Regions from separate parts of the Homo sapiens genome. Here regions 1, 2 and 3 are each linked to region 4. The links come from fine-mapping of genetic effects on gene expression. A gene starts in region 4. Each other region holds a variant in brackets. All regions are shown on one strand. Distances are from middle to middle.

Region 1 (5,997 bases), 93 kb after region 4:
TTGAGTTTTTGTGATACTGTTGCTGGATTTAAGAAAAACTTTTTTTTTCTTTTTTGAGATGGAGTCTCGCTCTGTCGCCAGGCTGGAATCCAGTGGCGTGATCTCGGTTCACTGCAACCTCCACCTCCCGGGTTCAAGCGATTCTTCTGCCTCAGCCTCCCGAGTAGCTGGGACTACATGTGCGTGCCACTACACCCAGCCAACTTTTGCTTTTTTAGTAGAGACAGGGTTTCACCATGTTGGCCAGGATGGTCTTGATCTCTTGACCTTGTGATCCGCCCGCCTCGGCCTCCGAGAGTGCTGGGATTGCAGGCATGAGCCACCGTGCCCGGGCAAGAAAAACTCTTATAATCAGTATTAATCATTTTAGATTCACCTAAGAGTAAATTTTTTAAAATAGTACTCCTCTTGTATGAGTTTTCTGCATAACAGGTGCAATTGAGCAATAGCCACACAAGTGTCTAGGGATGGTGCTGAATGTGTAACAAAAGGTTAAAGGGTTTTCTAACAGATTGCCAGCAGTGTTTTACATTTCCTGAATGATCTAAGTGTTGGTTTAGCTTGGGACTGGAGAACATAACAGATTTAAAAAATAACAATGAATATGGTTGCTATGTCAGAATTAAAGAGTTATTTAAATAAAGTCAGGCCAGGGAGTATAATCAAAAGATTCCCAACAATCCTGGTGAGTTTTACTTTAGAAGAAAGTTCTGGGATAAGTGATTCAGATTTATAGTGGAACCAGATTTTATGTTCATTTCTTTCCAGTTAATCCAGATTCTATTTTATACATTTAGTACCTTAAAAAGTAAATGAAGGGACATACATTTGAATGGAATCCTTTGTTTTCTATTGAATTTAATGCTTTCATAATCATTATGAGAAAATACTTTCAAATGATTTACACATGATTTAGAAATGCAGGCAGCCCTTTCCAAGTGGTTATTGTATTCTGACACACAGTGATTTTTGTAGATATATCATGTTACAGAATGAAGTGGCCATTTTTGTGGGATGAATTTTCTAAAGAACATGTTGAAATATTGGAGGTTAGGGTTATTTTAAAACATGAGTTTCTTCTCTCACAAATTAAAGTGTTTGATCCCTATAATTGCCAGACTATAAGCTCTAATAGGGATAGTAAGATCTAAGTGTTGGTTTAGCAACGACATTAAGAAAATTTTAAGTATAGCTCTGAATTTAAAAGGTATTAATATTATTTTTCATTTAAATTGATAGTAATTTCATGAAAAACAAATGGCTTAAACCCAGGGAAGCAAGGATTATAATTGATTTTTTTGAGCAATGTTCTCTTTTGGTTACAAAGTAAAAGGTAAAATAAAAGTTTAAAAGCATTTGGAAAGAATGTTCTTTGGTTTTTTCACTCAGTAACCTAAAGTTTAATGACCCTTTACAGTGCTGATAAACACTTAAATTTTTGCAGTAGGCATTGCTAGTTCAAATTGAAGGAAGGTTGCCAGGCTCATGCCTATAGTCCCAACTACTTAGGAGGCTAAGGCAGGAGGATCCCTTGAGGTCAGGAGTTCAAGGCTGCCATGAGCCATCATTGTGCTACTGCACTCCAGCCTGGGCAATAGAGTGAGAACTGGTCTCGAAAAGAAAAGAAAAAGAAAATAAAAGAACAGAAAAGAAAGCACTGAGTGGACCTTAAAATACCTCTGTGTTGCTTCATTTTAATTAATTAATTAATATTTTTTTTTTGAGATGGAGTCTTGCTCTGTTGCCCAGGCTGGCGTGCAGTGGTGCAATCTTGGTTCACTGCAACCTCTGCCTCCTGGATTCAAGCAATTCTTCTGCCTCAGCCTCCCTAGTAGCTGGAGCTACAGATGCATGCCAACATGCCCAGCTAGTTTTTGTATTTTTTTAGTAGAGATGGGGTTTCACCATGTTGGCCAGGCTGGTCTCGAACTCCTGACCTCAGGTGATCCACCCGCCTCGGCCTCTCAAAGTGCTGGGATTACAGTCATGTCATGAGCCACCATGCCCGGCCTGCTTCATTTTAAAGGTACTTCATTCTTCCTTGTATCCTGAAATCTCTCAGCACCAACAGGGAAGGCATTTAGGTGACATTGGAAAGTTACTTTCTGATGCCTTCTATAGGTACTAAGCTGACCCTGCCTGAGATCTTGCCTTGAGATCTGATTGGACTTAACTGAGCATTTGTGATTTGATCATCTTAAGGTATCTCAAGCACTGAATGAGAAACTGGAAGTTTCTTGTGTATCTGGGTTATACACTTGGTCCATTCTAATTTCAATAGCACCATTATTTCTGCAT[A/G]TGTTATATAAGGAGAAAAAGACCTTAAAGAGTTCTAAATCTTTCTGTTTTTTTTTGAGACGGAGACTTGCTGTGTTCCCCAGGCTGGAGTGCAATGGTGCAGTCTCGGCTCACTGCAGCCTCAGTCTCCTGCATTCAGGTGATTCTCCTGCCTCAGCCTCCCAAGTAGCTGGAATTACAGGCACCTGCCACCACACCCAGCTAATTTCTGTACTTTTAGTAGAGATGGGCTTTCACCATATTGGCCAGGCTGGTCTCGAACTCTTGACCTCAGGTGATCCACCCACCTTGGCCTCCCAAAGTGCTGGGATTACAGGCATGAGCCACTGCGCCTGGCCTTACATTTTTTTATATTGTACTGGTTACCATAAAACACTAAATTATGTAGAATTTGTTTTGAAAAAAATATGTAATAGAATCCAAAACAATTAGGTAGCTCAGAATGTTTTCTTAGGTTATACTCTGTGCCTGGGTCAAGAGGTAACAGACAAATAGGATCCAAATTTTACAGCTAGATGACTTGGACACACAGAGAGTAGGTGACTTGCTGATGATTAAACAGGGAATCTGATGGATCTCCAGGCCCTAAGCTCTGACCTTGGACTCTTGCACTTTTTGCAGTCTAATGTTTAGAAACATATGGGTGAACCTGAATTAAAGAGAAATACATGTAAGTCCATTTACTTTAATTTCATTTTCATTATTGTACTTAAGAGTGTGAGGATGCAGTCGTCTTTGAATGAAGGCAGCATTCAGTATTAGTGGGATTGTTTAGCTTCACCCACCCTACCACAAAGAGATGAGGAAACGCTGGACGTTGTTTTAGTCTGGTCAGCAAATCCAAATCTATGAGCATTGTGGAGAAAGGGTCTATGTTCACATATATTTTTAGTAGTTCTTAGAAGAAAGAAAAATGCTGCTTTTTTTTTTTTTTTTTTTTCTTCCAGATGAAGTCTTGCTTTGTTGTCCAGGCTGCTAGAGTGCAGTGGCATGTTCATGGCTCACTGCAGCCTCAAACTTCTGGGCTCAAGCCATCTTCTGACCTCAGCCTCCAGAGTAGCTGGGGCTACAGGTGTGCACCACCACATCTGGCTATTTTTTTTTTTTTCCAAGATGGAGTCTTGCTCTGCCACCCAGGCTGGAGTGCAGTGGCGCAATCTTGACTCACTGCAACTGCCGCCTCCCAGGCTCAAGCGATTCTCCTGCCTTAGCCTTCCAAGTAGTTGGGACTACAGGTGACCACCACCATGCCCGGCCAATTTTTGTATTTTTGTAGAGACAGGGTTTCACCATGTTGGCCTGACGGGTCTTGAACTCTTGGCCTCAAGTGATCCATCTACCTCGGCCTCCCAAATTGTTGGGATTACAGGCGTGAGCCACCACGCCTGGCCTAATTTTTTAAAAAATTATTATTTGTAGAGATGGGGTATCTCTACAATTATTTGTAGAGATGTTGCCTGAGCTGGTCCTGAACTCCTGGCTCCTATGATCCTCCTGCCTCGGCCTCCGAGAGTGCTGGGATTATAAGCATGAGCCACTGTGCCCTGCCAAAAGCTGATTTTTAAGGTGGGGGACAGTTTCACCTGCACCGCCTTCTCTGCTGGAAATCATCATCAAGGTCACTGATGACATTATCATCGTCACTGGGGAAGTGCTGGCATAACCTGTAGGTCAGTGCTTCTCAGTCATAAGAAATATTTTTATTATCTTTTTTCTACCCTGAAATGAGTATCACATAGCCAATATAATACATCTATTCATGCATGCTTAAAAAGTCAATATAATGTCCTACCTGCAATGTAAGGAGAAATTAAAGAAGGCCATTTTTACCTTTTCATATTCATTGCTCACACAAAACTGTACTTACTGGAAGATGGAATGAAACCGTTGGATGCTTACATGTGTGTGGAATTACCATGATGAAAAGCTAGTGACTCAAACACTACAAGCGGTTAGGTGGTCAGTGATATGATTTTTCAGAAATGGTGAACAATTCCTGCCAAAATTCCAAAGTAAGCAAGGAGTCTACACTAGAATAACCAGAAACGAACAACATGTACCCGGGACCTGGAAGTGAGGCGTGTATGGTGATGTTTGATTTGAATTTTGGACTAAAGTTCCGTGATGATTAATAGCACAGGCAGCCAAATGAAAAACTTGTCAAATCAATAGTTACGTAGATTTTACTATTAAAAGGAAATAACAGTATCTGAGATGGAATTAAAATTTCCAGGCTCCTAAAATCATTTCCTGTAAATTCTTTGTTCTTTAGGCTATATGACACCAGATCAAAACTTCGGAAACTAACCAGCCATTTTTATGGATTGATGCTTCATATGCCAGCACTGAATTAGGCTTTTGTATTCTATTCGCTGTTTGCAGGTCTTAACTTTTTGTTTTTCTTTTTGAGACAGAATCTCACTCTGTCGCCCAGGCTGGAGTGCCGTGATGTGATCTTGGCTCACTGCAGCCTCTGCCTCCCAGGTTCAAGCGATTCTCCTGCCTCAGCCTCCTGAGTATCTGGGATTACAGACATCCGCCACCACACCTGGCTAATTTCTTATATTTTTTGGTAGAGACAGGGTTTTGCCACGTGGGCCAGGCTGATCTCAATCTCCTGGTAGGTCTTAACTTCTGATTGCAAGGCGGGAACCCTGAGCACTTCAAACTCTGCTTGAGAGAGTTTTTCTGTCACGCTTAACTCACGCAAGGTAGGAATGAATAATTTGCTGCTGCCGCTGCCTCTAGAGACTATTTTAAAGGATTATCTCATGGAAGCTTTCAGAACTTCCCCCCCACCCCCGCCAATTGAATGTGGGTGAGAAACGGACGTGAACTTAAAAAACTTACCAAGCTTGGTTCACCTCTCAGGAGCAGGTCTGCTTAAATTAGCTGCATTGAGCTCCTCGATGTCCTTTTGCGGCGCTGCTGATTCTTTCAAGAACCTTGGCTACCTTGCCAAATGTATCACTCCTTTATAATCTTAAGCGTTTTAACAAATGAAATACAGTTCAGTTTCTGCACTTGGTTTTAAATGTCATGATGTGTCTCAGCAATCCACTTAGTCCATCAAAATCACATTTTGACTTGTCCACATAATCCTTTTAGACTGTTTCTGGATTTATTAAGTGCTTTTTCATGCAGTTGATGAAAAAGCTTTCATTTTAAAAATAATTTCCACATGACGCTGGAGGCCTCCCATTGTAGTTTAACAATAGTTGAGATGTTGTATTGTTTATTCAAAACTGCCAAGTAGCGTCAGTGCTGGTGGATGGGAACCCTGGATGGAATGCTGGGAGAGCCCTGGGGAGGTAATTTAACCTCTTCGTTGTTCAGTCCTGATGTCCAGTGGGTTTCAGCAGCGTGTCTAGGTTTACTCCATTGCCAGGCAGAGGTAGATTCTGCCTCCTCTGCCCCTTTGCATTCCTTGGATCGACCATTGACTACTGGAAGGCATTCAGACCATTACCTTTCTATGCCTTTTCCTTTGCATAAGACCTGCAAAGGAAAACATACTTTCATCCTGGATATTTTTTGGTTTTAGCTTCCAAGTAGGGTTTATGGCCTTTTTTTCTCTTGGGGTTGGGAAGAAGGGCAGTGTTGGAGAGGAAGAGACCCAGAAACACCACCATGCTAATAATAAGGAGGAGAAAGTCGGGCCATGTTGGAGTCCCTCTGCCAATTATACAGATCGTGGCA
Region 2 (5,997 bases), 86 kb after region 4:
AGTGGCAGTTGAAGGAGGCCGCTCTGCTTTGTTTTTTGCCAAATTATTTTCATTACAAGTAACTGCAGTTCGTAGTTAGTAGTCATTGATCAGGAATTTTCTTTATGGGAAGTTAACTGGACAAAGTAGAAATAAAATTTTCAGTATGGATAACAAGTTTTATCAAACTTAATAGGCTCAAGAAAGGATTTTTGTGCTACAGATCCTACTGTATTATAATGATGCCTATTTTATAGAGAAAGCAGGAATTATTGAGTTCACATTGAGTTGAAACTCATTTTAAAATTTTCAACTCCATTTTTTATCTGTTTCAACTGACTTGGACATAGAGAACTTGAAAATGACCTAATTTCTTCCAAGGCCAACTGTTAAAATTCTGCTTCATGTATGAATTACAGCTTTTGTGTTTGGATTATTGGTGCTAAGATTTAGAATCTTGAGGCTATCTCGTTGGAAACTGACTTCCTTTATCTCAGAAATTACTCAGTATGAGAAACATGTCATTCAAAGTAATTTTCATGATTTTCTGACAGGCAGACATGTTAGTGCCTTTCAAACAGACTAAAGCCTTCATTTAGTAAGATTTATCCTCTCGCGAGCTAAAATATGTCCTTTGAGAAAGTGTTTTCTTGGTCTAGAATTCTTTTGTTGGGGCTCACTGTTGCAGAAGAGTGTTCCCTGCTGCGCAGTTCCGCTTGGTCCTGCAGCTAGACAGTGAGCGAAGCTGACAGGGTTGAAGGTTAGCATCCTAGGACTTGGGGGAGCTCAGCCCTTCTGTTGGGGTGCATGGGAATGCCACAGTGTCTCGTAGGAGGACCTCTAAGGTCCAAAAGAGGCATCCTGCTCCCTCCTTCTGTCACTTATCTTTGGAGTCTCAGTCATGAAACTTTTGATTCTGTTTCTTAGGAGGTATGAATTTGAAGACATTACAAAGCACCCATTTGGTCTCTTGAATATAATTCCTTGGAGTAGTTGTCCTTCTGAAACAGAAGCATTTAACTTCAAAGCCTCATGGGAAGGAAGGAAGCTGACAAGAAACCCCACTCCGATTATGACTCCTGGCGGTCCTTGCATGTATGAGGCATTGGCCACAGCTTTTGTTCTTGCTTTTGTTCCATGTACCACAACTTGTTTTTCTAGAATTCCCCAAGCTTTTGTATGCTGAAGAAAAAAATCAAACCATCACAATTTTAATCCTGATCATATTCCATCTCACTTCCAACTCAACTTCATAAAAACACGCACAGTTTTAAGGTGTGTTGTGCTAAATTGAAAATTACATTGCTATAATATTCTTTGTTTGCTTTTTTTGTTTATGAACCAGATGAAGTAGTTTGACCTCTCACTTGTTTCAAGGCTAATCTGGGTAAATACTTTTGTTTTTGTTTTTTTGGTTGGTTTTGTCCGATGATAGTATATTTAGAAATAATGTTCATAGCAATAAGGTCAGAGACTTGTAAGAGGGAGACTGACTGAATCATCTTTCTGTTGACAGCATTAACACCATAGCTTGTGTTCAGTGAATGGATGCATTTATTACTTGAGCACTTAAGAGTGTCAGGCGTGATGCTAATTTCCAGAGATCCAAAGTTGAGTGAATTGGAAAAGGGAAATAAAGAAGAGGAAATAATTCCCAAACAGTGTGGAGCATTACCTACAGATGCATAGGTTTTGATGGTAGCACCTGGGGGCACCTCCTCTTTGAGGATGTCCTATCTTAGCTGATTAAAGAAGTAGCATGGGGGCCGGGCGTGGAGGCTCACACTGGTAATCCCAGCACTTTCAGGAGGCTGAGGCAGGCGGATCATGAGGTCAGGAGATCGAGACCATCCTGGCTAACATGGTGAAACCCCGTCTCTACTAAAAATACAAAAAAATTAGCCAGGTGCGGTGGCGGGTACCTGTAGTCCCAGCTATTCGAGAGGCTGAGGCAGGAGAATGGCGTGAACCTGGGAGGCGGAGCTTGCAGTGAGCTGAGATTGCGCCACTGCACTCCAGCCTGGGCAACAGAGTGAGATTCTGTCTCAAAAAAAAAAAAAAAAAAGAAAGAAAGAAAGAAAAAGAAGTAGCCAGATGAAGGTGGGGTAGGGACACTGCCAGTCACAAAAAGCACGGAGGCAATAAATGGCATGATTTTGCTGGGGAATATGGGCACTGGGGACACAATGCTAGGTGGCTGGTGTCAAGAGACCTATGAAGTGGATCTGTGATAAGGGCCCTTGTTGTAGACGGCTTTGTAAAGCATACAAAAGAGATTTAATCCCAGCCTATTTAATTGATCAAGAATGACAAGGGCAATATGCCGAAGCTGCTGCTGATTCTGTAAGCTTACTAAATCAATAGACATTTTAAAAGTCCATCATCATGGATGCCGTGGGGCTTAGTATCATTTTGTTATTTTGAAATGTTGTGATGATAGTTGATGAAATTAATTAATCATACTCTATCGCAGATGGAAATGAGACAGTGGTAAGTTCTTTCTCTGTGGGGAATGAAGTATTTTGGTTGCAAGAAGAGGAGGAAGGTGCCAGGTCTTTCCTCTGCAGCCTCTTCAGGCCAGAGGAGCCTGTGTGGGTTGTGATTTGTGGGTGGCTTGTCATTCTGTGGGTGGCAGGCACAGCAGGGGGCTGTGAGAATGCAGGAACAACTTGTATACACAAAGCACTTTGCAGTTTTGTGAAGCCCCTTCATCCATGTTATTGATTCTGAGCTCACAAAATCCATATTTAAAAAGCAGAACAGCAAACCTCTCCAGTTATTCCTATAGTTGAAGTTCAGAGAAGTTAAGTGAGCTGTTCAAGGATATGCAATTAGAAATCAAAGGATATTACATAAACCCCAAATTTATGACTCTCGTACTCACGCACTTTCCACATTACCACACTTCTGCCTTGCTTGATAGCTATTCAAGAGACCTGGCCATTTTCCTCTCAAAACTACAAGTAGTTCCCTTCAGCAGAGACACTATTGAGTGAACAGATTCTTAACAGTGTAGAAACTTACCTTAATCAGATGAATATGGTGTTGAGTCTGTTCTCTGAAAGCAAAATTATTTTAATCATATGATGCTTCTCTTTGATGAATTGTTGCCTTTATATTTGTGCCTGATGTCTTAGAAATAGCTTTCAAATCAAAGTCGTGGTGGGTAGACACAATATGAGTGAAGCTGGAGCTAGAACAGTTTTAAGATAGCTGACACCTTTGTCTTTTTATGCTTTGAGCTGATGAAAATCTGTTCCATTTTTGACTGCCACAGTATTTTAATTCTGGTAAACTTTTTTTTGTGGGGGGTGAGAATGTGAGAGTTTATATTTTTATTTGCTTATATGAAAAGGTAATTATACAAAAAAGAAATTAGCCAGGCCTGTTGGCGCACGCCTGTTGTCCTGGCCAC[C/T]CGGGAGGCTGAGGTGGGAGGATTGCTTGAGCCCAGGAGGTTGAGGCTGTCGTGAGCTGTGATAATACCACTGCACTCCAGCCTAGGCAACAGAGCAAAACCCTGTCTCAAAAACAAACAAAAAAGGTAGTTAGATGAGTACATGCGAAAAATGGTGAAATCCAAGTCAGGTCCGTTGTCTAGTTAATTGTGCTTCATGCCAGTCAGTTTTCTGCTTTTGATAATGCAGTGCAGGTTATGTAAGATGTTACTGTTGGGAGAAGCTGAGTGAGGAGTGTACCAATCTCTGTACTATTTTGGCAATTTCTTGTGAGTCTATAATTATTTCAGAAGAAAAGGTAAAAGAAAAGTAATTAGGATATGTCAGTCAAGTAAGTCAGATATTTTCCTTAAATTTGAAACAATTTGTCATGACTAAATTGTAGTGCAGGCTGGGCGTGGTGGCTCTTGCTGTAATCCTAGCACTTTGGAGTCTGAGGCGGGCGGATCACTTGAGGTCAGGAGTTGGAGACTAGCCTGGCCAACATGGTGAAACCCCGTCTCTACTAAAAATACAAAAATTAGCCAGGCTTGGTGGCACATGCCTGTAGTTCCAGCTACTCAGGTGGCCGAGGCATAAGAATCGCTTGAACCCAGGAGGCAGAGGTTGCAGTGAGCCAAGATCACGCCACTGCACTCCAGCCTGGGCGACAGTGTGAGACTGTCTCAAAAAAAATTATTTTAAATAAATAAATCATAGTGCAAATAACATACTCATCATTCATTCATTCATTCACCAGATAATTGTTGAGTTCTTTACTTTCTGCCAGGCATTATTTTAGTTGCAGAATCAGAGAGCTGTGCCTTATTGTAAGAGGTTAACCAGAAAGAGCCTTCCCTCCTTGCTTCTTAGTTGTAGAGCAGGGCTTCTTAACCCTAAGCTGTGGATTTTAGGGATAGCATTTGTGTTTTCTGCAGAAAGTATCCTTAGTGTTCGTTAGATTTTTGAAGTTTAAGGACTGCTGCCTTAGATGATTACTTCTCATACATGGCTTTTCATGAATACAGGGAAGCCTCTGGCATTCTGAATGCATTAACCTTCTGATTAATTGTCTTTGGGAAACTTGAGCTTTGCAAGGTTCCTATCAAACTTCTTTATTTTTCTTTTTAGTTGACTGATGGGAAAGGTGTTGGATACTTAGAAACAGTTTGACTTCTGAAACAAAAATATTTAGAGCTACTTAAGTTGATCCATGTTAGCTCTGGGTGGTCAACTCACTTAGCAAAACTTAACGCTGATGATGAAGCTTCTAAAATGTTTTCGTAGGAGCTCTTGTGTAAGTGTCATACTGAACACTGTATTGGTACTGAACACATTTTTATTGCCCCATCCATTCCAAGGGGCCAATGTGCCTGACACATCTCTTTTATTCAGAGTCTGTGTGGTGTTTAAAATTAGTTCCAGGTAAGACTTAAAATTCATGATATGTTTTACACATTCTCTCTTTTATATGTGGTTGGTACAGGTATGTGATTTTTCTCTTAAAGAAAAATGAAAACCAATCTTAAACTTCCATCAAATTACATTGCCCTGCAACTATACATATTTTCCTTGGTAGCATTTAGTGTACCTGACATGCTTCTGTTTTAAAGGGATGAGATGCTCTTAGAATAAGAGACTTAAAGTACGAGAAGGGGAGTTTGGACTAAAATAAGTCTGACTATATCTACAATAATTTATAGTGGTAATTTTCAAGTTTGTCTTCTGTCATTAGACTTTGAGCCCCTTGAGGGCAAGGCTGAGCTCATTTATGTCTGTTTATTCCTCGGCTCCTAGTATGGGATCTAGCAGCCTGTAGGTGTTCAGGAATTGTCTGTTAAAAGACCTTCAAAACACTATTTACAGGTACCACCAAACCTCATAGTGCTCACCCAGGAATGCATGGGAAACCTTTACACTAATCAAAGATCCCTGTTGGCTAGAGCACTGTGTGTGGTGGTGTTTTTAAAATGCTCAGAATCCAGGCTGACACAGTTGGCTCATCCCTGTGATCCCAGCACTTTGGGAGACTGAGATGGGTGGATCGCTTGACCTCAGGAGTTCAAGACCAGCCTGGGCAACATGACAAACCTCATCTCTACAAAAAATAAAAAAAATGTAAAATTTAAAAAAACCCCTCAGAATCCTCAAATGGTATAAATAATCCCCTCTCAATATACTCTTTGGCTTTAAAAGCTTAAAACTGATAGTTATATTTTGGCCATTGCTTAAGTAGCTAATTTTGGGAGTGGAAGGTATCTTCTTTCCATAAAAGAAAACCAGCAAACAACAATGTGAGCTGAATTAATTTTTGTTTATAATGTAATTTCTCTGTTTGTTTGGAGGGCTTTTTCTGTGGGTGCTTCATAGATTTAGCCATGATGATTTCCATTTTAGATTTATGAACTGTCCGGGAAGGAATTCTGTTTTAATTTGTCACAACACCACAGTCCCTTGAAGGCATGGATTCTTAATGCATCTGATGAGGAGAATGTAATTTTAAACACTTACACCTACCAATGATGAAAAGAACAAAAGGCATGCTATATTCAGTTCCAAGTGGATTCTCTTTATCCATGGGAAA
Region 3 (5,997 bases), 22 kb before region 4:
CAATCATGGCTCACTGCAGCCTCGAACTCCTGCGCTCAAGCTCCACCTCAGCTTCTTGAGTAGCTGGGACTACTGGTGTGTGTAGTTTTTTTTTTTTTTTGTAGAGATAGGGGTATTATGTTGTCCAGGCTGGTCTTGAACTCCTGGCCTCAAGCAATCCTCCTGCATTGGCCTCCGGAAGTGCTGGGATTACAGGCATGAGCCACCTAGCCCAGCTACGATAGGAATCTACAATGGATTGCATAACTAGTCTTTTTTTGATGGACAACTCAGTTGTTTGTAATTGTGTTATTATTACAATGAAGCTGTGGCAAATATCTTTACACATTTCTCTTGGTGCACAGGTTTATCTAGGGTAAATATCCAGCAGTTAATTTTTTTTGGATTGAAATATGTGTGCTTTAAAAATTTTAGGGAGGAGGAAGGGAGGGGGCTGAGGGCTGAGGGACTGCCTGTTGGGTGTTGTGCTCACTGCCTGGGTAATGGGATCATCCATACCCCAAACCTTAGCGTCATACAGCGTTTCCATGTGGCAGACCTGCACATGTACCCCCAAATCTAAAATAAAAGTTGAAATTATTTTTTAAAAATATAATACATACTCAGTAAAAAAATGAACCTGGCCGGGCGCAGTGGCTCATGCCTGTAATCCCAGCACTCTGGGAGGCCGAGGTGGGTGGATCACTTGAGGTCAGGAGTTTGAGACCAGCCTGGTCAACATGGCAAAACCCCGTCTCTACTGAAAAAACAAAAGTTAGCCGGGTGTGGGTGACACATGCCTGTAATCCAAGCTACTCAGGAGACTGAGGCAGGAGAATCACTTGAACCTGGGAGGTGGAGGTTACAGTGAGCTAAGATCATGCCACTGCACTCCAGCCTGGGTGATAGAGAGTCTGTCTCAAAAACAAACAAACAAGCAAACAAACAAACAAAACAAACTAAACTCATAGCCAAGTGTATGATCAAGTTAGCCACCAGTTCCTTGTGATCACACTAAATCTTTTGTTTCTCAACAGTTACTCTTATAGAAAAATCATTTTTATGTTCCATCTTTTGGATCCTCTCTCTCATACTTCCATTCCTCTAAATGAGGATGTATTTTTGGTGACAAGTAATAGAAACCTTACGTGAACCAGACAGAAAGGGTAATTCATGGGCTCATGTAATCAAACTGTGGGAAAGCCCCAGTCTAGCTACATCTAGCCCCAGTCTAGCAACATTTAGGCAATGCTGCCAGGACTCATTTTGCTTCTCAATTTCACTCTTTTACTGCAGGGCAACTTCTTTATTTTAAGAGTTCTTTGTATTCTAATACAAGTCCTTTATTAGATATGTGCTTTGCAAGTATTTTCTCCCAATCTATGGTCTGTCTTCTATTTCTCTTAACAGTATCCATCAAAGAGCATTTTTAAATTTTGATTAAGTCCAATATATTAGTTTTTAAAAAATGGATCATCATTTTGGTGTTGTATCTAAGAAATCACTGCCTAACCCATGGCCACAAAGATTTTCTCCTATGTTAGCATCTAGAAGTTTTTTAGCTTTAGGTTTTACATTTAGGTCAATGATCAATTTGGGGCTAATTTTTGTATATGGCACATGGCATGGATAAAAGGTTATTATTATTGCATATGGATGTTTTATTATTCCAGCACCATTTTTTGAAAAGATGATCCCTTCTCCACTGAATTGCCTTTGCACCTTTGTTGAAAATCAGTTTTCCATTTATGTGTGGGCATGTTTCTCCACTCTCTTTTCTGTTTCACTGATTTATTTGTCTACCTTTACTTCTATCTCACACTGTCTTGAACACTATATCTTTATAGGAAGCATTGAAATCAGGTAGAGTTAGCTCTCCAACTTTGTTTTGCTTTTTCAAAGTTGTTTTGGCCATTCAGGTCTTGATATGGTTTGGGTCTGTGTCCCCGCCCAAATCTCATGTTGAATTGTAATCCCTAGTGTTGGAGGAGGGGCCTGGTGGGAGGTAATTGGATCATGGGGGTGGACTTCCCCCTTGCTGTTCTCATGATAGTGAGTTCTCACGAGATCTGCTTGTTTAAAAGTATGTAGCATTTCCCCCTTCCCTCTTTCTTCACAAGCTCTGTCATGTGAAGATGTGCCTGCTTCCCCTTCACCTTCCACCATGATTGTAAGTTTCCTGAGGCCTCCCCAGCCGTGCTTCCCGTACAGCCTGCAGAATTGTGAGTCAATTAAACCTCTTTTCTTCATAAATTATCCAGTCTCAGGTAGTTCTTTATAGCGATAAGAGAATGAACTGATACAGAAAATTGGTACCGGGAAGTGGGGCATTGCTATAAAGATACCTGAAAATGTGGAAGCATCGTTGCAACTGGGTAATGGGCAGAGGTTGGAACAATTTGGAGAGCTCAGAAGAAGACAGGAAGATGAGGGGAAGTTTGGAACTTCCTAGAGACTTGTTAAATTGTTGTGAACAAATGCTGATAGTAATATAGACAGTGAAGTCCAGGCTGAGGTGGTCTCATACAGAGATGTAGAACTTACTGGGAGCTGCAGTAAAGGTTGCTCTTGCTATGCTTTAGCAAAGAGACTGGCAGCTCTAGGGATCTTTGGAACTTTGAACTTGAGAGAGATGACTTAGAGTATCTGGCAGAAGAAATTTCTAAGCAGCAAAGCATTCAAGATGTGGCCTGGTTGCTTCTAACAGTATATACTCATATGCATGAGCAAAGAGATGACCTGAAATGGAAAC[T/C]TAGATTTAAAAGAAAAATTGAAAGAACTTCAAAGAAAATAACTTTCTCAAAATTTAATGAAGCATCTGTGCACCAAATAAAATCCTGTCACAGACTGCCAGAGATTCTGTTTCAAACTTTGGGAAACATTGGCATGATGTTTCCCAGCTCTTGAGTCCAAGTTCTTGAGGCCAGCAGGCTACGTTTAAATCTAGGGTCTTTCCCTCAGGTACTAGCCGTTTGCTGCTATGCTTCCCCTCTGAATCTGTTTCCTTACCTGCAAAATAACAGTACTAATAAAATTGCCTGTTTGTAGATATAAAATGAGATGAGGCATAAAAAGCCCTTGGCATAATCCCCAGTAAATGGTAGGTGCCTTGAAAATGTCAGTCATTTTTAAGGCAGGAAATCAGTGTCATAACTCAAAAATATGGGCCCTTTCTGTTATGGTCAGCTTTCTACTCTCCATTCTTACCCTCAAGTTTGAGACACTTGGCCTTGACTTAATCTCTTCACTCTCAAGGTGTAAAAGCACTTCACCAAACCTTTTATTTCAACAATAGAATCAGGACCATGACTCATGTATAAGTGACTGTGCAAGTTGATCTGGGTGGGATTGTGAGCCAGATCATCCAGAGTCAGTCTTCGCTTGCCATAATTGTCATGGTATCATTACTAACAGATATTTAGGGGTGAGCACCCATTATGGGTAAAACTCCATGACAGCTTCTGGGAGCACTATTCTAGATGGTCATAGTGAGCTTTTGGCTGGATGTCTGCAACACACTCTAAGAGGCCAACTGGAAGCTGTGGACCAGGCAGACTAGAGCCACTTTGCAGTGGAGAGGCACAAACTACAAGGAATAAAATTATAGGTTGCTAGAATTGTAGTCTACATTTCCCTTTGGCTGCCTGTTTGTTTCTCGATATAATTTGAGGTGTTGACTATAGACCACAAAAACCTAGGTGGTTTTGGGTACCAAGCTGTCTTATGAATTACCTTTCTCTCTTTCTAACTTCCCGGTAGCTAAGATTAGCAAGCATGGTTGGGATTATAATTGCTGCATTTAAACTACAGAAAGACTGTTCTTTGATGAAAGATTCTCATATTTCATAAATGTTCTAGTTTGATAAAACTTTAATGTCCTTACCAACAGGTCATAATGGACATGTAACTTTTTATGTTCTTACTACATTGGTTATTTTTAAAGTATACTTTGTTCTGAAAGTATACTTGTTCTCAAATCTTTAGAGGCACAAATTTTTACAAGTCCGATCATATCTATTACCAGATCAGTTGTATATTTGAATTATAGCCAAGTTCCCCTAGTTTACAAGGCAATGTGAATTATGGATAAATTATTAATACCAGTTAAAAGATAATTATTGAAATTACAATGGGGCTTATTTGAATATTTAAAAATCCTGGCTGGGGCATGGTGGCTCATGCCTGTAATCTCAGCACTTTGGGAAGTCGAGGCGGGCAGATCACCTGAGGTCAGGAGTTCGAGACCAGCCTGACCAACATGGTGAAACACTGTCTCTACTAAAAATACAAAAATTAGCTGGGCATGGTGGCAGGTACCTGTAGTCATCACTACTCAGGAGGCTGAGACAGGAGAATTGCTTGAACCTGGGCGGCGGAGGTTGCAGTGAGCTGAGATTGTGCCACTGCATTCCAGCCTGGGCAACAGGGTGAGACTCCATCTCAAAAAAATAAAAATAAAAAATAAAAATCCTGGCTGGGCATAGTGGCTCACACCTATAATCCCAGCACTTTGGGAGGCTGAGGCAGGCAGACCCTTTGAGCTCAAGAGTTTTAGACCAGCCTGGGCAACATGGCAAAACCCTGTCTCTATTTAAAAATGCAAAAAATTAGCCAGACATGGTGGTGCGCACCTGTAGTCCCAGCTACTTGGGAGGCTGAAGTAGGAGAATTGCTTGATGAACCAAATAGATGCATATTTTTCTTCAGTTGTAAGCAATTAAAATGGTATTTTATAGATGAGAGCTGGCTTGCTGTAGTTACAATCTTACTTTGGACAAAATACACGCTGAATTGCTTTTCATTGAGATGAGGCATAAATCTAGGTTTTAGGTATCCTGAAACGTATGAAATTTTGGAGTCCCTCTTCAAGTAAAAAGAATACCAGGCTAAGTGTAGTGGCTCACGCTTGTAATCCCAGCACTTTGAGAGGCCGAGGCAGGCAGATCACTTGAGCTCAGGAGTTGGAGACCAGCCTAGGCAATATGGCAAAACTCCATCTCTACAAAAAATACAAAAATTAGCCAGATGTGGTGGCACAGGCCTGTAGTCCCAGCTACTTGATAGGCTGATGTGAGAGGATTGCTTGAGCCCAGGAAGTGGAGGCTGCAGTGAGCTGTGTTTGAGCCACTGCACTCCAGCCTGAGTGACATGGCAAGACCTTGTCACACATGCCAAAAAAAAAACACCAAAAAAACAAACAAAAAGAAAAGAAAAAAGTCAGGCATGGTGGTTCACACCTGTAATCCTAGCACACTGAGGTGGGAGAATTGCTTGAGGCCAAGAGTTCAAGACCCACCTGGCCAAAATAGTGAGACTCCGTCTCTAAAAAAAAAGAGAAAAGTAGGGGAAATTTTGAAGATGGCTGAATAGGAACAGCTCTGGTCTGCAGTTCCCAGCATGATTGATGCAGAAGACGGGTGATTTCTACATTTCCAACTGAGGTACATGGTTCATCTCATTGGGACTGGTTGGACAGTGGGTGCAGCCCATGGAGGGCAAGTTCAAGCAGGGCAGGGCCTTGCCTCACCCGGGAAGCACAAAGGGTCAGGGGATTTCCCTTTCCTAGTCAAGGGAAGCCATGACAGACTACCTGGAAAAATGGGGCACTCACGCCCAAATACTGTGCTTTTCCCAAGGTCTTCACAAATGGCAGACAAGGTGATTCTCTCCTGTGCCTGGCTTGGTGGGTCCCACACCCATGGAGCCTTGCTCACTGCTAGCGCAGCAGTCTGAGATCGATCTGCGAGGTGGCAGCCTGGCTGGGGGAGGGGTGTTGGCCATTGCTGAGGCTTGAGTAGGTAAACAAAGCAGCCAGGAAGCTTGAACTGGGTGCCCACCGCAGCTCAACAAGGCCTACTGCCTCTAGACTGCACCTCTGTGGGCAGGGCATAGCTAAACAAAAGGCAATAGACAACTTCTGCAGACTTAAACGTCCCTGTCTGACAGCTCTGAAGAGAGCAGTGGTTCTCTTTGCATGGCGTTTGAGCTCTGAGAATGGACAGACTGCCTCCTCAAGTG
Region 4 (5,997 bases):
TTATACACTTTAAATAGGCAAATTATATTGTATGTAATTTTTTTTTTTTTTTGAGACAGAGTCTGGCTCTGTTGCCCAGGCTGGAGTGCAACGGCATGATCTCGGCTCACTGCAACCTCTGCCTCCCGGGTTCAAGCGATTCTCCTGCCTCAGCCTCCAGAGTAGCTGGGATTACAGGCCCCCACCACCACGCCCGGCCAATTGTTGTATTTTTAGTAGAGACGGGGTTTCACCATGTTGGCCAGGCTGGTCTCAAGCTCCTGACCTCAGGCGATCCGCCCTCCTCGGCCTCCCAAAGTGCTGGGATTACAGGCGTGAGCCACGGCGCCCGGCCATATTGTATATAATTTAAAAATGTTATGCATGGTCCACTACACGAGAGTCTCATGATGGCAGGGACAGAGCCAGCTTTGCACATTACCTTATCTCTAGCCAGTGCCCAACACACAGGCACTCAACTAGTATTTCTTGAGTAAGCAGCATGCTTTTATACCGTTCCTGATGTTTATCCAGTGCTTCATAAATTGCAAAGCATGTTTTTTCACAGCAGCCGTTCCTTTGAGCCTCATAACAACCCTGAAGGTGGTCAGAGTAGGTGATACGAAATAGTTACTGGCCCACATTGTAAAAAATGAGGCGCTGTACAACAGGATAAAGACCAAAACACCACCACCACCACCACCAACACCATAACCCGTATCTGTCTAATAAGTTTTATTTGGAGGAGCTCTTTCCCAGGCCCATTTTTCTCCCACTGCTCCTGTCCCCCAGAGAGGGAACGCGCTTCTCATTACAATCAGCGCTGCTCTGGGAGACCGACTCCCAAAATGCCGTAAAACAGAGGAGCAACCAGGGTCAACTGGAAAGCAGAAACCAAAGAACCCAGATTCCTTTTCTGAGCAAACACAGCGATGGGCCAGTGGGATTTTAGCTTGGGGATATTGGACCCAGTCTTCTCAAAAACTTCCTACCAGAAGGTTTGTGTTAGCGGGTGTCCCATGACCACGATCTCAATAGCATGTGGCTTACATATCTTCCAGGCTCGAATTCAGGGTTCTAGGTTCTAGTCCTCCACCCCTAACTAACATGCTTGGTGGAAGAAACTCAGATTAGTCACATTTCAGCTTGGACCTTTCCAGCTGTAGTAGCAGGCAGCCACAGGGGGAGTCACCTTGCTGAAAAAAACTCACTGGACGCCCCCTGAAAAGAGGTCTTGAGTTGTTCCGAGTCGGACGCTGACTCCTAGTCGGCTACAGAACCCTTGGCCACCGGACATTTAAAGACGTTCTATTTGAGGTCCACCCGGGCGGCCCAGAAGTGTTGGCCACCTTCCAGAAGGGAAGTAGGAGAGAGCAGGGGGACCCCGAGGGGCCCGGGGCGTTCCCCGCGGGGCGGGGCGCTCCTGACTGCGGAGCGCCGTGGGCAGGGGCGCAGGTGAGCAGAGCGAGCGGAGCTGGCCGCGGCCGTCCTGGCGCCTCCGCCCTCCCGGCGCCCGCACTGCGCTGCACCCCGGCCCGGGGGGCGGGCGAGGGCTCTGCCCCACCGCCCGGGGGCTGCCAAGGGGAGTTGGGGCGGCGACGTGGGCGTCCCGGGACTGTGCGCCCGCACCCGCCCCGACAGGGTGCGCTGAGGCGCCGGGGCCGCCACTGGCTGCGGGCGCTGGGCGCGGCAGCCGCGGGAGCCGCAGGTGGTTCCCGGGCCGGCCCTTTTCTCCTCCCCCTTTCCTTTCTTTCGCCTCCCCTCCCTCTCGCCCGGTGTCGGCGGCACTTCCCTCGCTTCCTCCTCCCTCTCCAATCCGGAGGGAGGGAAGGAGCAGCCGGCGCTTTCCTGCCCGCCTGCAAACTTCAGCGGGACTCGCGGCTCCCCTCGCCGCCGCGGCCGCCGCCGCCCAGAGCTGCCCCTGGAACTTCCTCTCGCCGCGCGGCCCGCGAAGCCCTGCGGGTGGAGGAACGCCGCCGGGCGCCAGGCAGCCACGGCTCGGACCCCATTCCTGCCCCGCGCCGCCCGGGTGCCCGCTCGCCCGCGCGCCCGTCCGTCCGTCCGTCCTTCCTGCCCGCCCGGCCTCTCCCCTGCGGGCAGGGGCCGCCAGGCTTCCCTCGGCGCCCCGCCGCTGCCCGGGACTTCCTTTGTGTTGGATGCAGGCTGGCGCCCCGCGCCGACGGGAGGCAGACTGAGGGATCCCGCGCCGCCGGCCCGCCCCCGCCATGCCCTTCCACCAGAGGACCCTGGAGCCCGCGCGGCTGCGCCGGCCCGAGGCGGCGGGGGCCGGGGCTGCGGGCGCGCCACTCTTCCGCTCGCTGGAGCAGGTCAGCTCGCATGCCCTGGGCTGCCTGCTGGCGCAGCTGGCCGACCTGTCGCGCTGCGCCGGGGACATCTTCGGCGAGCTCGAGGGCCAGGCGGCCGCGCTGGGCCACCGCACCGCCGCGCTGCACCGCCGCCTCGACGCCCTGCAAGCCGCCGCTGCGCGCCTGGACCACCGCCGAGTGAAAATCCGTGAGTGGCCGGCGGGCCGGGGGAGGGGAACCGGCGGGGGAGGCACCCGGAGAGCTGCTCCCGCCCGCCCCCTGGCGGCCCTGGGTCGGCGCGGGGGCCGCGGAGCCCCGCGATGTCGGGGTCTCCAGTGGGGACTGCCGGACCCCAGCGGGAGGCTGGGCAGGTGGCAGGGGCGCAGAGCGCTCTGTGACTTTCGGACTCCTGGAGGGTCTTGGCTACCTCGAGAGAGTGGGCGCGGAGGGTGGGAATTGGACAGTCCCCTTGTCTGCTCCTTCTGTCTGTCTGTGTCTGTCTGTTTGGGAGACCCCGGGGCGCTGTAGACAGAGGAGAGCCAAGTTCGTGGGAAAACTGTCACAGGCAGGTAGCCTGTTGGAAAAGCCAGGGGAGAATATAAATTTGGGCATATAGTAGTTACAGTTTTGGAGACTTCAGGACGATCCGTTTGTAAAACCCTGGGGATCTCGGCGAGCGTTGGGGCTGCTTGCCACCTCTCTTCCCGCCGCCTACCTGTGTTCTTACCGACAAGCAAAACTATGCAGACTTTAAGGGTTTTCCCATTTGGCGCAGAATTTTCTTTCTTCTCCCAGACTGACCCACCAGCTCTTTGTGATTCAGAAGACGTTGACCTTGAGTTCAGGCTCTGAATCCCATTCATCTTTGTCCGGCTTCCTCCAACCCTGAAAGTCAAGTCTATGTCCTGATATAGTGATCTCTCCGGTGATCCATTTCATTTCAGCAGCTTAACTGGCTCCGGTGAATGAAGCAACTGGAATTTCCTGCTGGCCCAAAGCAGAGAAACTTTCAGTGTGATGTCTCTGTGGTTTCTCCCTTTTAAGTACGTGAACTTGGTCATAATCCTAAGTGTAAAGAATAAATTGGAGATGGTTGATGGATTGCTGGGTGGGAGGGGAGATGTTGATGTAACACACGCCTAGATTTCAGCAGCTCTGGATGAAATAGTTTTTTCTCCTAGAATCACTTCATATGCAATCTCGAATAGCTCGTTTTCCAGCTAGCTAGAAAAACTTAGCTATATTTTAACTACCTTACAGCCTAAGAGTTCAAAATTTTCAATTATTTAATTTCAGTGAGATTGCTTGCTATAATACATCTTTCTCCAAGTTGTATAATTAATTCGTGGCAGTTTTACATTTTTGCGTTCATCTCTTTGATTGTGCCGTCAACACATTCATATGAATTGTGGACAGTTCCCAACCTGGGAGAGCGTCCCCCTCCAAGAAAAAAAAATCAGTGGGGAGGAATCAAAGTGATCTCATAAGGTTGTTGACATAATCAGAATATATCTACTTAATGTGAGTGATGACTTCATGCATATGGTAGGATACACTGTCCTAGTAGGATGTCATGGTCTATGCGGCAATCACGAGTTGCTTCTATGCGTTTTCTGTCTAGGGTGTAGGTACGTGGGAGAACCAGAATTTTACCCTTGACAAAGAATGTGATGAGGGAGATCTGATTGATAGGTGAACTGATCTATTGTGGGAATTAAAAAACAAGAGGAAACTCCCTGAAGGTCAAGAACTCCTTCCTTTACTAGTTTGGTTTTACATTTAAATGTATCACTTTTCTCTGTTCTTTAGTACATATGCCCCAATAGGCTACTGTCCATAGCCAGAAATCCCCCAAATTCTCCATATTAACTAAGGTTGTTCTAATTACAGTAACTGAAATAACTCTTTTCAAAACTTTTCACAAGTTTGTTTGAATCTTAAGTGGTTGTGATTTCATACCTGTCTTCCAGGCTGGAGTGCTGTGGTGCAATCTCAGCTCACTGCACCCTCCGCCTCCTGGGTTCAAGCAATCCTCCTGCCTCAGCCTCTAGAGTACCTGGGATTACAGGCGCCCGCCACCACGCCCGGCTAATTTTTGTATTTTTAGTAGAGACAGGGTTTCGCCATGTTTGTCAGGCTGGTCTTTAACTCCCAACCTCAGGCGATCCACCTGCCTCGACCTCCCAAAGTGCTGGGATTACAGGTGTGAGCTACCACACGTGGCCCCATTTTTTTTTTTTTAATAATCATGCAAGAAGGCTTTTTATTGAATATAATTATGCCTGAGTATAAATGTACATGTAGAGAAGAAAGCTGACTATCAAGACATTAATTTTTGTGGTTTCTTTCACCTTCACACACTTTGCTTTTTTATGTGCTTAAAAGCAGTGAAATGCCTATGCATTACCATCTGTTAGGATTCTTTTAAAACAATGCCTCAAACCTTGTTTCTGTGTAAAAACTACAGTTTGAAGTTGTTCTGCCATTTTAGGCAGGTCTTCAGAATATCATACTCCATTAGTATGGATGGCTAGACTTTTAGACTTGGAATTGACCGTAAAGGCCATCCATTTCGTGAATTCTTACCCAGAGAGGAAATCCAGTCCAACAGCATTGCAGTTAATTCACCCCAGGTTAGGCTGTGGGTAATGACACATCCGGGCCTGAAGCCCAAACCTTCTGATTGTCTCGCCTGTCGTCCCACTGCCTGTGTTCCTTCCCTTTAGAAGAGTGTGGAGCCAGGCACAGTGGCTCATGCCTGTAATCCCAGCACTTTGGGAGACCAAGGTGGGCGGATCATTTGAGGCTAGGAGTTCAAGATCAGCCTGGCCAACATGGCGAAACCCCGTCTCTACCAAAAATACAAAAATTAGCGAGACTGTCTCAAAAAAAAAAAAGGTGTGGAAATGGGGAGCAAAGTTTAGATATGTTCCTTAAACAGTCCTAAGGATAACTGTGACCGTTAATTCCACCCTTCTTGTCAGATAAACCATTTAATGAGTCTCCCCAGGAGCAATTAACAGAATCCAGCAGTTTACCAAAAGCCTCTAGCAGTTGGGGACAGCATATTTCAGTGACCAATAATAGCTTTCTACCATAAGAAAGGATGTGAGAATGTCAGTGGAACAATTTAAAAAAATGTATAAACACTCTTTGCAATACAGAGACAGTATTTTAGTCCTGTGGGCTGGCCCTGCTGGCCTCAATGATCCTGAGAGGTATTTCATCAAGTTTGCCATTCCTCAAAATCTCATGGGTAGAAAGTTATCCAAAATAATTTTTTGTCATGCCTTGGGGAGAATGCATGTTATTATTCTGTTCATTGAAGACTCCTACTTTCTTTCCCTGACACCCCCAGGTTGAGGGGCTGTTCCCATGGCATTGGTTCACCTCGATCACCACATTTACCAAGGGGACTTCTGCACCCCTCTGCCAGACAGCAGGACCTTTGAGGTCCAGGATGGCCGAGTCTTTGTTTTTCTAGAGCTTAGAACAATGCCTGGATGTGATAGCTCAATAGATGTTTGAATTGAATTAATACTTAGTGACTTAGTGCTTACTGTCAGGAAGAATAACTATAAAAACCTTAGGGAGGAAGGAGGATGGATCTTTTGAGGCAGGTGGATCAGTTGAGGCCAGGAGCTCAAGACTAGCCTGGCCAATATGTTGAAACCCCGTCCCTACTAAAAATACAGTACTAAATACAATACTA

Alleles and levels. Alleles are on the strand shown, and positions count from the first base shown. SD is a standard deviation of normalised expression in the study named. Not every link is listed here.
As copies of C replace T in region 2, the expression in monocytes of the gene that starts at base 3,301 in region 4 goes up (large effect, 0.77 SD a copy in Schmiedel 2018).

Evidence for each region. PIP is the estimated chance that this variant, and not a neighbour inherited with it, causes the effect. A credible set is the group of variants that fine-mapping cannot tell apart.
Region 1: its variant is the best candidate, but not a certain one, in a credible set for the expression of NHSL1-AS1 in blood mononuclear cells (TOPMed, PIP 0.74).
Region 2: its variant is the best candidate, but not a certain one, in a credible set for the expression of NHSL1-AS1 in monocytes (Schmiedel 2018, PIP 0.82).
Region 3: its variant is the best candidate, but not a certain one, in a credible set for the expression of NHSL1-AS1 in whole blood (TOPMed, PIP 0.75).

What each region holds. Positions count from the first base shown.
Region 1 is chr6:138,595,869-138,601,865 of GRCh38, reverse strand. It overlaps a transcript of NHSL1 not described here. Among named protein-coding and RNA genes, the nearest start is that of NHSL1-AS1, 93 kb to the left of the region's middle. The variant A/G (reference allele first, on the strand shown) is at 2,299.
Region 2 is chr6:138,602,750-138,608,746 of GRCh38, reverse strand. It overlaps a transcript of NHSL1 not described here. Among named protein-coding and RNA genes, the nearest start is that of NHSL1-AS1, 86 kb to the left of the region's middle. The variant C/T (reference allele first, on the strand shown) is at 3,395.
Region 3 is chr6:138,711,388-138,717,384 of GRCh38, reverse strand. No RefSeq gene overlaps it. Among named protein-coding and RNA genes, the nearest start is that of NHSL1-AS1, 23 kb to the right of the region's middle. The variant T/C (reference allele first, on the strand shown) is at 2,732.
Region 4 is chr6:138,688,972-138,694,968 of GRCh38, reverse strand. It overlaps NHSL1-AS1 (NHSL1 antisense RNA 1), which reads right to left and starts at 3,301. Exons shown (of 4, transcript NR_033896.1): 1 at 3,001-3,301; 2 at 422-576. It overlaps LOC124900217 (collagen alpha-1(III) chain), which reads right to left and starts at 2,243. Exons shown (of 2, transcript XM_047419637.1): 1 at 1-2,243. The coding sequence starts at 2,206. The coding sequence ends at 1,277. It also overlaps a transcript of NHSL1 not described here. RefSeq lists silencers at 1,455-1,594, 1,635-1,694, 2,175-2,524, 2,535-2,584 and an enhancer at 2,707-3,906.